Regions from separate parts of the Homo sapiens genome. Here all the other regions are linked to region 3. Evidence: fine-mapped expression QTL. A gene starts in region 3. Each other region holds a variant in brackets. All regions are shown on one strand. Distances are between the middles of the regions.

Region 1 (4,248 bases), 67 kb after region 3:
TTAACAGAGTTGACCCCTCATACTTCTCAAATGCTTTCTTCTCTTGGCTTCTAAGACATTACACTCTTCTGACCATTCCATTTCAGCCTCTTTTGCTGGCTTCTCATGTGCAGAACAAGCTTTGAAGTTTGAAATACTCCAGAGTGCGGCCTTGGGCCCCCTCTTTCTTGCTAAGGTAACTACACAGTCTCATGGCTTTAAATATCACTTATCTTCCAGTGAATCTCAAATATTTATTTCTAGTCCTGACCTCTCCCCTCCACTTAGACTTGTATATCCAACTTGACAATGCTCCTTGGCACCTCAAAATTAACCTGTCCAAGACATTACTTTTAAACCATACATGTCCCATACAAACCTGCTCCATCTCCATCTCAGTAAATGAGACAATCATCCACTTAGTTACTATGCCAAAACCTCGACGTTATTAAGGATTCTTCTCTTTCCTTTACTATTTGATACCCTTATATCGAAAGTAGGTCTCTTGTAAACAGTATATGGTTAGGCTTAAAAGAATCCTATAGGATTATATTTGTCTTTTAAAAAAGTACTATGTTCATTTATATTTAATGTAATTACTAATATATTTTAGTTTAAATCTACTATCTTACTAATTATTTCTATTTGTCGCACTCATTCTAAATTTATTTTCTTTCCCTTTTTTTTACCTTCTATTGAGTGATTAGGTAATTTTTTCCACAGTTTTCTTCCTCTACTAGATTATTAGTTATACATTCTTTTACTATTCTTTTAGAGGTGATTTTATTTATTTATTTATTTTTATTTTTGAGACAGAGTCTCACTCACTCTGTTGCCCAGGCTGGAGTGCAATGGTGCCGTCTCAGCTCACTACAGCCTCTACTTCCCAGGCTCAAGTGATTCTCCTGCCTTAGCTTCCCGAGTAGCTGAGATTACAGGTGTGTGCCAACACGCGTGGTTAAAAGGTGTTAGTTTCTTCATTTTTATTTTGTTTGCAGTTCGTAGCACTCTAAATTTCAACATATCTCTTCAGTTTTAGAAAATTCTCAGCCATTATCTACCACAGTGTTGCTTCTGGCCTATCTTTTCACTCTCTTGTTCTGGGACCCCAACTTTATGTGTATTACATCCTTCTCATGTTCCGTATGTATCTTACATCATTCAAGAAGATTTTCCATCCTTTTTGTCTTTCTCCATGCTTTAGCCTATTTTTTCTGATCTCTGTTCCAGCTTCGTAACTTTTATTTTAAAGTTTGTTTTTCCAATTGCTTTTTATTGAAGTAAAAGACATATAACATAAAATTGACCATCTTAACCATTTTTAAGTGTACAGCTCAGTAGTAGTAAACGTATTCACAATGTTGTGACGTCATCACCAACATCTGTTCTACCGTCCTCCTCATCCTGTAACACTGAAACTCCCATACTCATCAAATGATAACTCCTGATTCTTCCCTTCTCTCAGCCCCTGGCAACCATACTTTCTTTCTTATGATTTTGACTACTCTAAGTATCTCAAATAAGTGAAATTATATAGTATCTGTCTCTTTATGACTGGCTTGTTTCACTTGGGATAATTTCCCCAAGTTTCATCCGTGATGCAGCATATGTCAGAATTTCCTTTCAAGGCCAAATAATACTCCACTTTAAGTATGTACCGTATTTTGCTTATATACTCAGTCATAAATAGACATTTGGGGCCAGGCACGGTGGCTCACGCCTGTAATCCTAGCACTTTAGGAGGTCAAGGCGGGTGGATCACTTGAGGCCAGGAGTTCCAGACCAGCCTGGCCAACATGGCAAAACCGCATCTCTACTAAAAATAGAAAAAATTAGGTGGACGGAGTGGCTCAAACCTGCAATCCTAGCTACCCGGGAGGCCGAGGCAGGAGAATTGCTTGAACTTGGGAGGTGGAAGTTGCAGTGAGCCGAGATGGCACCACTGCATTCCAGCCTGGGTGACAGAGTAAGACCCCATCTCAAAACAAACACACAAAAATAGACACTTGGATTGTTCCCACCTTTTGGCTATTGTGAATAATGCTGCTATGAATGAGGTGGGTGTTCAAATATCTCTTTGAGACCCTGCTTGAACCCTGGAAATGATTATTTCTTTCTCCATAAGTCTATGAGACTGCAGATAGCTTTGTCCAGCTTCTTAGCCTCTCAGCTGCCACATATATGTAACAAACCTGCACGTGTGCACATGTACCCTGGAACTTAAAGTATAATAATAAATAAATAAATAAATAAATAAATAAA[TAAATAAAA/A]GAAATTGACAGTTGCTCCAGGGAGTAAAGCAGTGCCAAATGCCAGGCTCACTTTTGGCTTTCCCTCTTTTTTGGATCTTGCTATTTTGGTAGCTTGCCAATGCCTTCAAACACATTTACAAAATTTGTTCTGGTTGTTCTCAGTGGGAGAGTTTGGCTGAAACAATCTAGTCTGCTGTTGTCAAAAGTGAAAACTTAGTAATTTGATTTTCAGAGGTGATCATGATGTTACATTCTCTTTCTTATTTATTCTTTTATTGTTCATAAAGTTGTTCTGACCCTTAATTTGTTTCCTATAATAAGGAATCTCAGTAATAAGGAAATTAGAGTTGGAGCAATATAGCTCTTCCAGTTGATCATTCATCTTCTCACTACATGGATAAATTTTTCTGAAATAGCCCTTTCTGGAAAATTAACAGTGTTTACAGTTACCTTAAACTGCAAACTAGCTGTAAAAACGAGGAACTGCAAAACCCTAATATTTGTTCCTGCTTATTCAGAATAATGCTTGAAGAAATAAAATGAAATTCTGTAGGTAGGGAGTCAGAGGTGATATCTCTCTTGTATTGGCTTTTAAATGAAAACAAATCATCATGAGGTTTTTATTATAATTATATAGTTGTGTATAAATGGATAAAGGAGATGCTTTATAGAAATAATAAATCTATAATCATAGAAATTATGTAGAAGTAGATGTTTGAAAACATCTATTTTATGTTTTCAAATTTGAAATAATCAAAAAATTCTCATGCATTTATGTGTGTTATATTCAAGTACCACCTTCTATGTTACTTATCTCTTTTCTAGGGTGGCTATGATTCTGGTTTTCTATATCACTGTGAGTTCCCCCCTTGTGATGAAAGCAGTGATTTCAAAGAACAAAAAGATGAACCTATTGATGTCCGTTATCTTGCGGATACAGAGGACAATCCCATCCAAACTATCACTTTCAAGTGAGCAGTATTTCAAAAAGCTTTAAAAAAACCATATCCTGTTAGTGTCTATGCTTTTGTTCATCATGGATATTGTCAATTTTTAAAGATCCATCCAAATGAAGGGGTACTCAAAAAATATTTGGTTAAATAAATCAAATGAATAAATAAAATCAAAGCTAATACTGAAATTATATTTAAATACCCCCACCAAATATTCTGTCAGTATTTTTGTTTATCGCACAATTGAATTGTATGGATTTACATTCTGCTACCTAGGAGGATGCTACTTACATAGTCAGAAATGAAGGTTCAGGGTTACAGTTATTCTGGAGAAATCACAAATGAATCATTAGCCCTTTAATAATTGAGAACTAGGCAAATATGCCAGTTATTCTTCTGACGACCCAATATAATAGCTTCAAATTTCAAATTGGCCTTTTTTCTCTATTCTTTTGTATTAGTTTGCTAGGGCTGCCACAATAAAACACCACAGACTAGGTGGCTTATACAGCAGAATTTTTTTTCTCACAGTTCTGGAGGCTAGAGTTCCAAGATCAAGGTGTCAGCAGGTTGGTTTCTCCTGAGGCCTGTCTCCTTAACTTATAGATATTTGCCTTCTTGCATGATCTTTTCTCTGGGTGCATGTCATCCCTTATGCTTCTGTCTGTATCCTAATGTCCTCTTCTTCTTTTTTTTTATTATTATACTTTAAGTTCTAGGGTACATGTGCACAACGTGCACATTTGTTACGTAGGTATACATATGCCATGTTGGCTTGCTGCACCTATCAACTCATCATTTAAATTAGGTATTTCTCCTAATGCTATCCCTCCCTCTGCCCCCCACTCCCCAACAGGCCCTGGTGTGTGATGTTCCCTACCCTGTGTCCATGTGTTCTCATTGTTCAATTCCCACCTATGAGTGAGAATATGTGGTGCTTGGTTTTCTGTCCTTGTGATAGTTTGCTGAGAATGATGGTTTCCAGCTTCATCCATGTCCCTGCAAAGGACATGAACTCATCCTTTTTTATGGCTGCATAGTATTCCATGGTGTATATGTGCCAC
Region 2 (4,248 bases), 140 kb after region 3:
GGCCCTTCACCTTCGAGAGAAAAGGCTGGACATTGAGGAGGCTTTAGTTGAAGAAAAGAAAATTGTTGATAACCTCAAAAAGGAATATGATACATTGTCAAAAAAAGTATGGTGATCTGTTTACTTATTTATCCTCTCAAAATGCTACACATCCTCCTAGCTATAATATTGCCTTTTTATAGCAATGACAATATTAGGACTTCTCAGAAAAGAAACATTTCAAATGTTAAGGGCAGGTTTTTTTCTCCCTAAATTGTGGTGGGGGACATTGCTTTTTTGATCATTGGACTTACTTTATGTCAGTCATTGGTCTCCAGACTTTTCTGATGACTGTATAAGTAAAAAAAATGAAAATGGAGCCCCTCCCCATACAATAAATGTATATGTATTTATAAATTGTATTTATGAACTATTATGTATCTTGTACAATAGGAAACATCCACAAAAACAGAAATTAAATAGAATGAGATAAAAATAAATAGAAATAGAAACTCTGACATTTTCAATTTATACCCCAATAGATGATTTTGTTGATCATCTGGGGTGCATGCATCCCATGTTGGAGACCACCAATTTCTGCCTTAATCTGCTCACTTTCCCTCTTAGGTACTCTTGTCTAGAGCAACATCACTTAACTTCATTCATGTTCAGAAATATTTTTGATGTATTATTTCTCCTCTTGCAAACAGGAAATGATTTGGAAAACTTTCAGGTTTTCTAGGACATGGAGAATGTGCTTTAGAAATACTATAGTTAGCAGTTTCATTGCTTTAAAGCACTGAAACTTTCTTTAATTTGTTGAAGTCATGACCAAAAAAGACTCCCACCATTCTGTCAAAGACATTCCATGCTGATGGGCTGCTTTTCATGCAGAAAATAAAAGGGAGATGAGGACATGTCTTCTGGGCTCTTATTCACAAAACTTTATAACTCTGGAGTCATAGAAATGACTGAAGAGTGATGTGGATCATAACTTGGCAGAAAGAAAATAATATGCATTCCTGAGTTGCAAACTGGGATCATGCACTTAATCACAGCCCAACAAAGCAGATTCTGCTCATGCTTTACTTCCTCCCAAGATGCCTTCATTCACCATCTTTAGATGTATGTTTATTGAGTCTTGTCACCATTTCACAACACGGGGCTTTCTACAGGTGAAAATTGTGGCAACTAATCTGAATGCAGCAGAGGAGGCCCTGGAGGCTTATCAGCGAGAGAAGCAGCAGCGGCTGAATGAACTGCTAGTTGTGATTCCGCTCAAGCTCCACCAGGTGATGCGTCTGGGGAGGCTGCTCCATCCTGTCCGAGAAGAGTCATCACACCCAAGCTTTTCAGAGAAAGATTCATAGTTCACTAATGGGGAGAATCGTGGTTCTTTGTTGAGAATTCCACCTGTAGAATGACACCTACACTTGTCTTATCCACTGTCAGATTGTTATAAAAGAGTAACATCAAAACATGGATATTTCCCTGTGGCCCATTAGCACTTTGGAAATCAGTCATTTCAAGTCTAGAGAAATGAGGAGCCTATGATTTAAGAATGCAATGGCTCAGAGGGTGAAATCTTGGCTCTTATACCCATGCCACTTTTCACACCATCTTTATCTATACATGGACTAATCATGCTAAAATGACCTTTGCTTAGTCTCTACTCATTGGTGAGGGAGGTCAGGACAAAAGGAAAATATTTTCTCTTTTTTACTTTTCTTGTTCATTTCTATTTGAATTGCAACTTATATTAAATTGCAGGAATACATATCATTAAGAGAAAAGGCTTATTGTATTCTCCTTTGTCAGGTTAAGAGAAAAAGCTGTATTTTAGGAAAACAACAACAACAAGATCAGCCTTATATATGTTTTGTGTAACCTGACCCAAACTGGATGAGCTAAATGGAGCGGTTTGCCTAGTATGCCAGCCCTGAAATGTTTGTCACATCATTATGCAGTAGATAATAGGCATGATCTGTGTGGGAGGATTTGCTATCCCCACAGAGACGTGATGTGGCTTTCTGTCTGACAGCATCTTTCTGTGTTTGCCTGGCTACTGTTACTCAGTAAGGAAGACGTAGAAGCCCAAAGGCAAGGAGCTAAACAAGGGGCAAAGAAGGAAGTGCACCTCTTATGCTTTCTGTTGCCATACAAAATCTGTGTTTTTGT[C/T]TATTTTCTTTTGATTTGTTTTATGCTTGTAGATAGAGTATGTGGTATTTGGAGAAATACCTAGCGATCTTTCTGGTACTTTGGTCTTCTCTAACCATGCCTTGAGACGGCTGCAAGAACGAATCCATGAGCTCCAGGAGGAAAATTCCAAGCAGCAAAAACTTAACAAAGAATGGAGAGAGAGACGTAAACAGCTCATCCGAGAAAAGAGAGAAATGACAAAAACCATACACAGTGAGTATCTAAGCCCACAGCCTTGCTAGTAAGGTTTATTGGTAAGAAAGGGAATTATCCAGGTGACTGTCTCCAACTGTGAAAATAGTAATTGCAGACTCAGAACCACTGAGAAGGGAAACAAGAACACCACAACATCTTCCTACTCACCGTTTCTCCTGATGCCATGAAAAGCTCGCTTTCCTGTTTTAAAGGGAGAAATCTTTTGTCATAGAATCATCTTCTCTTTGTGTATGATTAAAATATAGAATAATACAATAATAACCCAAGTGCAAGACTACCCAGGTTAAGAAAGAAAACGTTGAGATACAATCGAAGCCCCATCTCTTTCTAATGCAATTCTGTGGCTCCTTCCTCGGGGTTCACCACCAGGTATGCACACATACATATGGATGTGTCCACACACAATATGGAGACCTACCTTGCATATTTTTAACTGTGCAAAATGATATTTATATCATTTTGTGGTTCACTTTATTAAACCAATTTTTAAGTTATCCATAAACTACAGATAGTTTATTCACTTTACTGCTACAAAATTCCATTTATGAATATTAAATATTTTATTTAGCCTCCTATTGATGGATATTTAGGATATTTATTATTTTTCATTATTATAGACAATGTTACAGGAAACCTTCTTGTACACATCTCCCTGTGCACATGTGTGAGAAGGTGAATCCTAGTACTGGGTCTCTGGGTTACAGAGGGATATGTACATTTTCAGCTCTCCTGGATATTGCCAGGTTGCCCCCAAAGTGGTTGAACAAATTTCTCCTCCCCTAGCAATGTGTGAGAATTGCCCAGGCTCCATATTGTCATCAACAGTTGATATTATCAGACTTTAATATTTTTGCCAGCCTGTGAGATGTTAAATTACATTTCATTGTGGTTTTTATTCACATTTTTTGATTGCTGGTGAAGTTAAATATCTTTACATACATATATTTGCCATTTATTTATTTTATTTTCTGTAACTTGCCTGTCCTATCCTTTGTCCATTTTTGATTTCTATTTTTTGCTTTTAAATTGATTTTAGGGAGTTCTTAATATATCCTTTTTGTCCATTGAATGCACTGCAAATCTCTTCTAGTTTGTAACTTGTCTTTTTTCTTTTCTTTTTCTTTTTTTTTTTTTTTTTTTGAGATGGAGTCTCACTCTATCGCCCAGGCTGGAGTCTCACCTCTATCGTGGTGGCGTGATCTTGGCTCACTGCAACCTCTGCCTCCTGGGCTCAAGCAATTCTCCTGCCTCAGCCTCCCGAGTAGCTAGGATTACAGGCGCCTGCCACCACGCCCGGCTCATTTTTGTGTTTTTTAGTAGAGATGGGGTTTCTCCATGGTGGCCAGGCTGGTCTCAAACTCCCAGGTGATCTGCCTGCCTTGGCCTCCCAAAGTGCTGGGATTACAGGCGAGAGCCACAGTGCCTGGCTATCTTTTTTTTTTTTTTTTTTTTTTTACTTTGTCTAGTGTATCTTTGGATACAGATGTTTTAAATCTTAATATAGTAATTTTTTTAATCAATCTACTTATTTATGGTTTGTGCACTATGTGTATGTGTGTGTGTCTTGCTTAAGAAATCCATTCCTATTTTGAGGTCATAAAGATATTTTTTGGTCCAACCATTCCACTACTGGGAAATGAAATTAGTAATCAGTATGCAGAAGAGACATCTGCAGTCCTATGTTCACTGCAGTATTATTCACAATTGCCAAGACACGGAATCAACCTAAGTGTCCATAAACAGATGAGTGGCTAAAGAAAATGTGGTATATGTACACAATGAAATACTATTCAGCCTTAAAAAAGAAGGAAACCCTATTATGTGCAACAACATGGATAAACTTGGAAGACAATA
Region 3 (4,248 bases):
TAATAACTTGCTCAACCTGAAATTTACAGTTTTCCAAATTACAGGTTGGCAGAGATACTGGATTGATAACAACATCCACAGTTATCATATAATCATTCTTATGCTGTAAACAAAATTATTTTGGTTAGCAGAATTTAATAATTAACTGTTAACTACATACTAGGCAATATTGTAGCCACTTTATGTGCTTCATGACACCTTATGGGATAGGTACTATTATCCTCATTTTGCAGATGAGGAAACTGAGGTACAAGGAGGTATTTTCTCAAGGTCACACAACTAGGGAGTGGTGGCATTAGAATGGGAACATAGGCAGTCTTTCTCCAAAGCCTATGCTGTGCTGCCTCTTGTTGGAGAGTAAACCTGTTTTACAGTGTGTGTAGTATGGAAGCAGCATAATAATAAGAATAGCTGTTCCTTATTGAGCCATTACTGTGGCAGACACCGTACTATAAGCTGTGGTATCACCATTATCTCATTTGAATCTCATAGTAGACCTATCAGTTAGAGGTATGTAAATGCTTCCTCCTCTCCCAGCACCTTTACAGATGAGGATGCTGAGCCCTAGAGGTGAAGAAAGTTGTCTAATGACAGAGTGCTTGTAAGAGGTAAAGCCAAGACTTGAAGCTCTTTCTTGCAGTTACTGGATTTCTCCTAATTTACGGGAACTAATACAGTACAGTAGCTAAGGATGCAAGTACTGAAACCAGAAATCTTGCCTCAAATGCCATTTCTGCCACTTGAGCTGTGTACTTTGGACAAATTAATCTAATCTTTCCCATTTGAAAGTCAGACATAATGTCTTCCCTAGAGGCTTGTGAGGATTAAGTGAGGCAAGTGTATGTAAATGGGCTGAGATCAGAGCTTGGCTCACAACACTCAGTAATGATCACTGCCAATTTTTTTTGGTATATAAATAAATAAATACACTATTTCCCCCATGTTTCCAATTTTTAAGACATTGTATAGTGAATTTATTGTATCTTTCTCAGATTAACAATTGCACACAGTGCTTGAAATTTAGAGGTATTTCACCTGAAAAGATGTCTAGAGATTGAAAGAAAACATGCTGGGCATATGATTTGAAAATATAAATAACATGCTATTTAAAAATAAGTTTACCCTATGTTTTCTATCTTTTCTGGCACCTAGATATACCATTTAATAAGTAATAGCAAGGATAATCATTTTTTTAAGCCCTGGAAAATCTTGATTAAAGAGGACATTTCAGTATTGCAAATAAATGCATGGTATTTGTGTAACATTGTGGAAACTAATAAACACAAATTGTATTATAGCAATTTTTTCTTGCCAATTTTATTGACAAATAATTTATATACAATAAATGACATCCATTTAAAGAGAACAGTTTATTGGCTTTTGGCAGTTGTATATACCCATGAAATTACCACCACAATGAAGACACAGCATTTCTATCATTTCTAAGATTCCTTGTGTCTCTTTCCAGTGCATCTCACTAAGTCCTAGGCAACCACTTTGCCCAAGTCTCTAGACTATCTTGGATGTGGAATGACTTTGTGTATGTTTAACTTTTGAAGAAACCTCTCAAATAGTTTTCCAAAGTGGTTATGCCATTTTACATTCCCAACAGCAGTGTATGCGAGTTCCAGTTGCTCCATATCCTTCTGCATTTGGTGTTAGCAATCTTTGAAGTTTTACCCCTTCACGTGGATGTGGAGTTATGTGTATTGTGGTTTCTATTTCCCTTATGACTACTTTTAAGCATCTATCCATGTGCTTATTGGCCATACATATATCTGATTTGGTGAAGTATTCAAATCCTTTGCCCATTTAAGAAATTGGGTGGTTTTTTCTTATTGAATTATAAGAGTTCTTTATACATTCTGTATACAAAGTCCTTTGTCACATATTGGAATGACCATTTTAAAACAAGTATTTGGTAACTAATAACGTTAGGCTAGGTACTTTAAAAAACAATATGACCACAGTACTACAGAGAGGTTGAACAAACTGCTAAACCTAGAAATCTGTCAAGGGAGGCCTATACTTTTGTGCCCAGAGCGCTGCGACCAAGAAACCCACAACATAAAACCTGATTTACTCTTAAAAGCCAACAGAGATAATATAGTTTTAAAAATAACAAAAATCCCACGATGTATCTTTGTTGTTGATGTTGCCGGCAAGCTGCCTACTATCTCCCAGGACCCCTCTTAAAATCGAAGTTAAAACCTCAACATAGGAACGCCGCGATCAGGGCTCCGTTGGGCCATTTTGGAATATCAGGCAGGTATCTTCGACGGTATTCATGTCATTTAATTATCTACATGACGTCCTTTAGGGGATAATAAACTCGTCGGGCTTTTCTGTTTGGCTTTGAACCAGTGTCATGAGGCGGAGAAGGCCCGACCAAAGGGCGGATAGGTACCGGGTTCCCGGAGAGCTGGACGCCGGCCGCGCATGCGCCCCACGGCCCGCCCTGGTTCCGCCTCCCTGGAAGAGGGGTGGCGTTGTCTCGGTAACCGGAGTAAACGGAGGCCTCCGGCAGACGCTGTGAAGAGAGGAGCCGCGGCGGTCAGTACCTTCGGTGAGTTTGGACCTCAGCAGCCGGCAGTTTCCACACCCTCCCCCTTAAATCTGTGGCTCAGAGGGCAGTGAACCCCACTTGGGCTTCTCTCAGGCTGGACCAGTGTTATAGCCTTCGTCCTCCCTGCGGTAGCTCAGCAAACTTTTGAAGCCACGAGTATTCTCAGGCTCGGAGCTAGACACTGTGTGCACGGTTCCTGCCTGCAAGACCCTGTCAGTCTGACCGGGCGGAAGCCAGCCAGGCAGCAGGAGCACAGCTTAGACCCGGCCAAGTCAGAGCAGCAGCGAGTCAGCTGGGAAGGTGCTGGGGCTCCCCGCTCCAGTGAGACACCTGCCCTGCGCTCAGCTGGGTGCGACGCTTGGCACGCTGGGCCCTCTGCACTTCGGCTTCCTCATCTCCAGAAAGAAAGGTGATAATGTGACCTCATGGAGTTATTATTAAACAGGATAATACAAGTAAAGTGCTTAGCACATGCATGACACATAGTAGGTGCACATAAATATTTGTCGGATAATAGGTAAAGACAGTCGCATACATGTGTGCTGCTCAGTGTGTCCAGTCTATCATGAGTTGCTAAGGGTGCGTACTGATGAAAATCTTTGAGAGGAGAAGGCTAAGGAGGCTAGGGAGAGAGAGAGGGTGACTGTAGCTGGGCTGCAATAAGCTACAGACCCTCTGACAAGGGACCTTTACACCAGACCGAGGAATCTGAGCTCTTATTTGATAGCAGTGATGAGCCATTAGAGGTTTTAAGCAAGAGTGACACATTAAAAGCTGTGTTTTAGAAATACAAGCGATAGTGTAGAAAATGGGTTACAGAAGGGAAGACAAAGTATGACGGTACAGTAATGGTAGAGGTGAGACACAGTGAGGACTGGAACTACAGAGGGACAGCAGGGACAGTAGGAATGAAGGGAGGGGAGGAATTCAAAAGGCTTAATCACTGGACACCAAGTAACAGGACTTGGAAATCATCTACATGAATTGGGTGAGAGGAACGGATTCAGAGTAAATACGCTGCTTTCTCATCTGTAAAATAATGACAGTAATAATAATGGATAGCAAGACTTTGTCTCAAAAATAATAATAATAGGCTGTGCGCGGTGGCTGACGCCTGTGATCCCAGCACTTTGGGAGGCGGAGGTGGGTAGATCACCTGAGGTCAGGAGTTCGAGACAAGTCTGGCCAACATGGGGAAACCCGTCTACTAAAAATACAAAAATTAGCCGGGCGAGGTGGTGTGCGCCTGTAATCGCAGCTACTCGGGAGGCTGAGGCACGAGAATCGCTTGAACCAGGGAGGTGGAGTTTGCGGTGAGCTGAGATCGCAGCACTGCACTCCAGCCTGGGTGACAGAGCCAGACTCCATCTCAATACATAAATACATAAATAAAATAATAATGGTACCTACCTCATAGGGTCGTTTTGAGAATTGTACGATAATATGTGTAGAATTTCTTAGAACTGTACTTGACACATAGTAAACATTAAAAAAGACAAGCTATTACTTTTTTTCTCCACAGCTGTATTTCACATTGCAAAGTAAAAACCGAGAGTCTGTTTTATACATCAGTCACTGTGAATCTTAAATAACCACCTCTGGCACACTGCTGGGATTGAGTGAGCTTGTGAGCATGAGGACCAGAACCTGGACTCTGGTGAATGAATCAGAGTAATGTCACC

What was found. PIP is the estimated chance that this variant, and not a neighbour inherited with it, causes the effect.
Region 1: its variant is the best candidate, but not a certain one, in a credible set for the expression of CFAP44 in whole blood (INTERVAL, PIP 0.75).
Region 2: its variant is the best candidate, but not a certain one, in a credible set for the expression of CFAP44 in nasal epithelium (TOPMed, PIP 0.81).

Annotation. Positions count from the first base shown.
Region 1 is chr3:113,372,365-113,376,612 of GRCh38, reverse strand. It overlaps CFAP44 (cilia and flagella associated protein 44), which reads left to right. Exons shown (of 35, transcript NM_001164496.2): 18 at 3,057-3,202. The region is part of intron 35 of SPICE1-CFAP44 (SPICE1-CFAP44 readthrough (NMD candidate)); the gene reads left to right. Among named protein-coding and RNA genes, the nearest start is that of CFAP44-AS1, 30 kb to the left of the region's middle. The variant TAAATAAAA/A (reference allele first, on the strand shown) is at 2,242.
Region 2 is chr3:113,302,059-113,306,306 of GRCh38, reverse strand. CFAP44 (cilia and flagella associated protein 44) reads left to right here. Exons shown (of 35, transcript NM_001164496.2): 30 at 1-106; 31 at 1,155-1,271; 32 at 2,190-2,391. SPICE1-CFAP44 (SPICE1-CFAP44 readthrough (NMD candidate)) reads left to right here. Exons shown (of 52, transcript NR_183050.1): 46 at 1-106; 47 at 1,155-1,271; 48 at 2,190-2,391. Among named protein-coding and RNA genes, the nearest start is that of BOC, 93 kb to the right of the region's middle. The variant C/T (reference allele first, on the strand shown) is at 2,158.
Region 3 is chr3:113,439,771-113,444,018 of GRCh38, reverse strand. CFAP44 (cilia and flagella associated protein 44) reads left to right here and starts at 2,526. Exons shown (of 35, transcript NM_001164496.2): 1 at 2,526-2,566. SPICE1 (spindle and centriole associated protein 1) reads left to right here. Exons shown (of 18, transcript NM_144718.4): 18 at 1-1,301. It overlaps SPICE1-CFAP44 (SPICE1-CFAP44 readthrough (NMD candidate)), which reads left to right. Exons shown (of 52, transcript NR_183050.1): 20 at 2,365-2,566.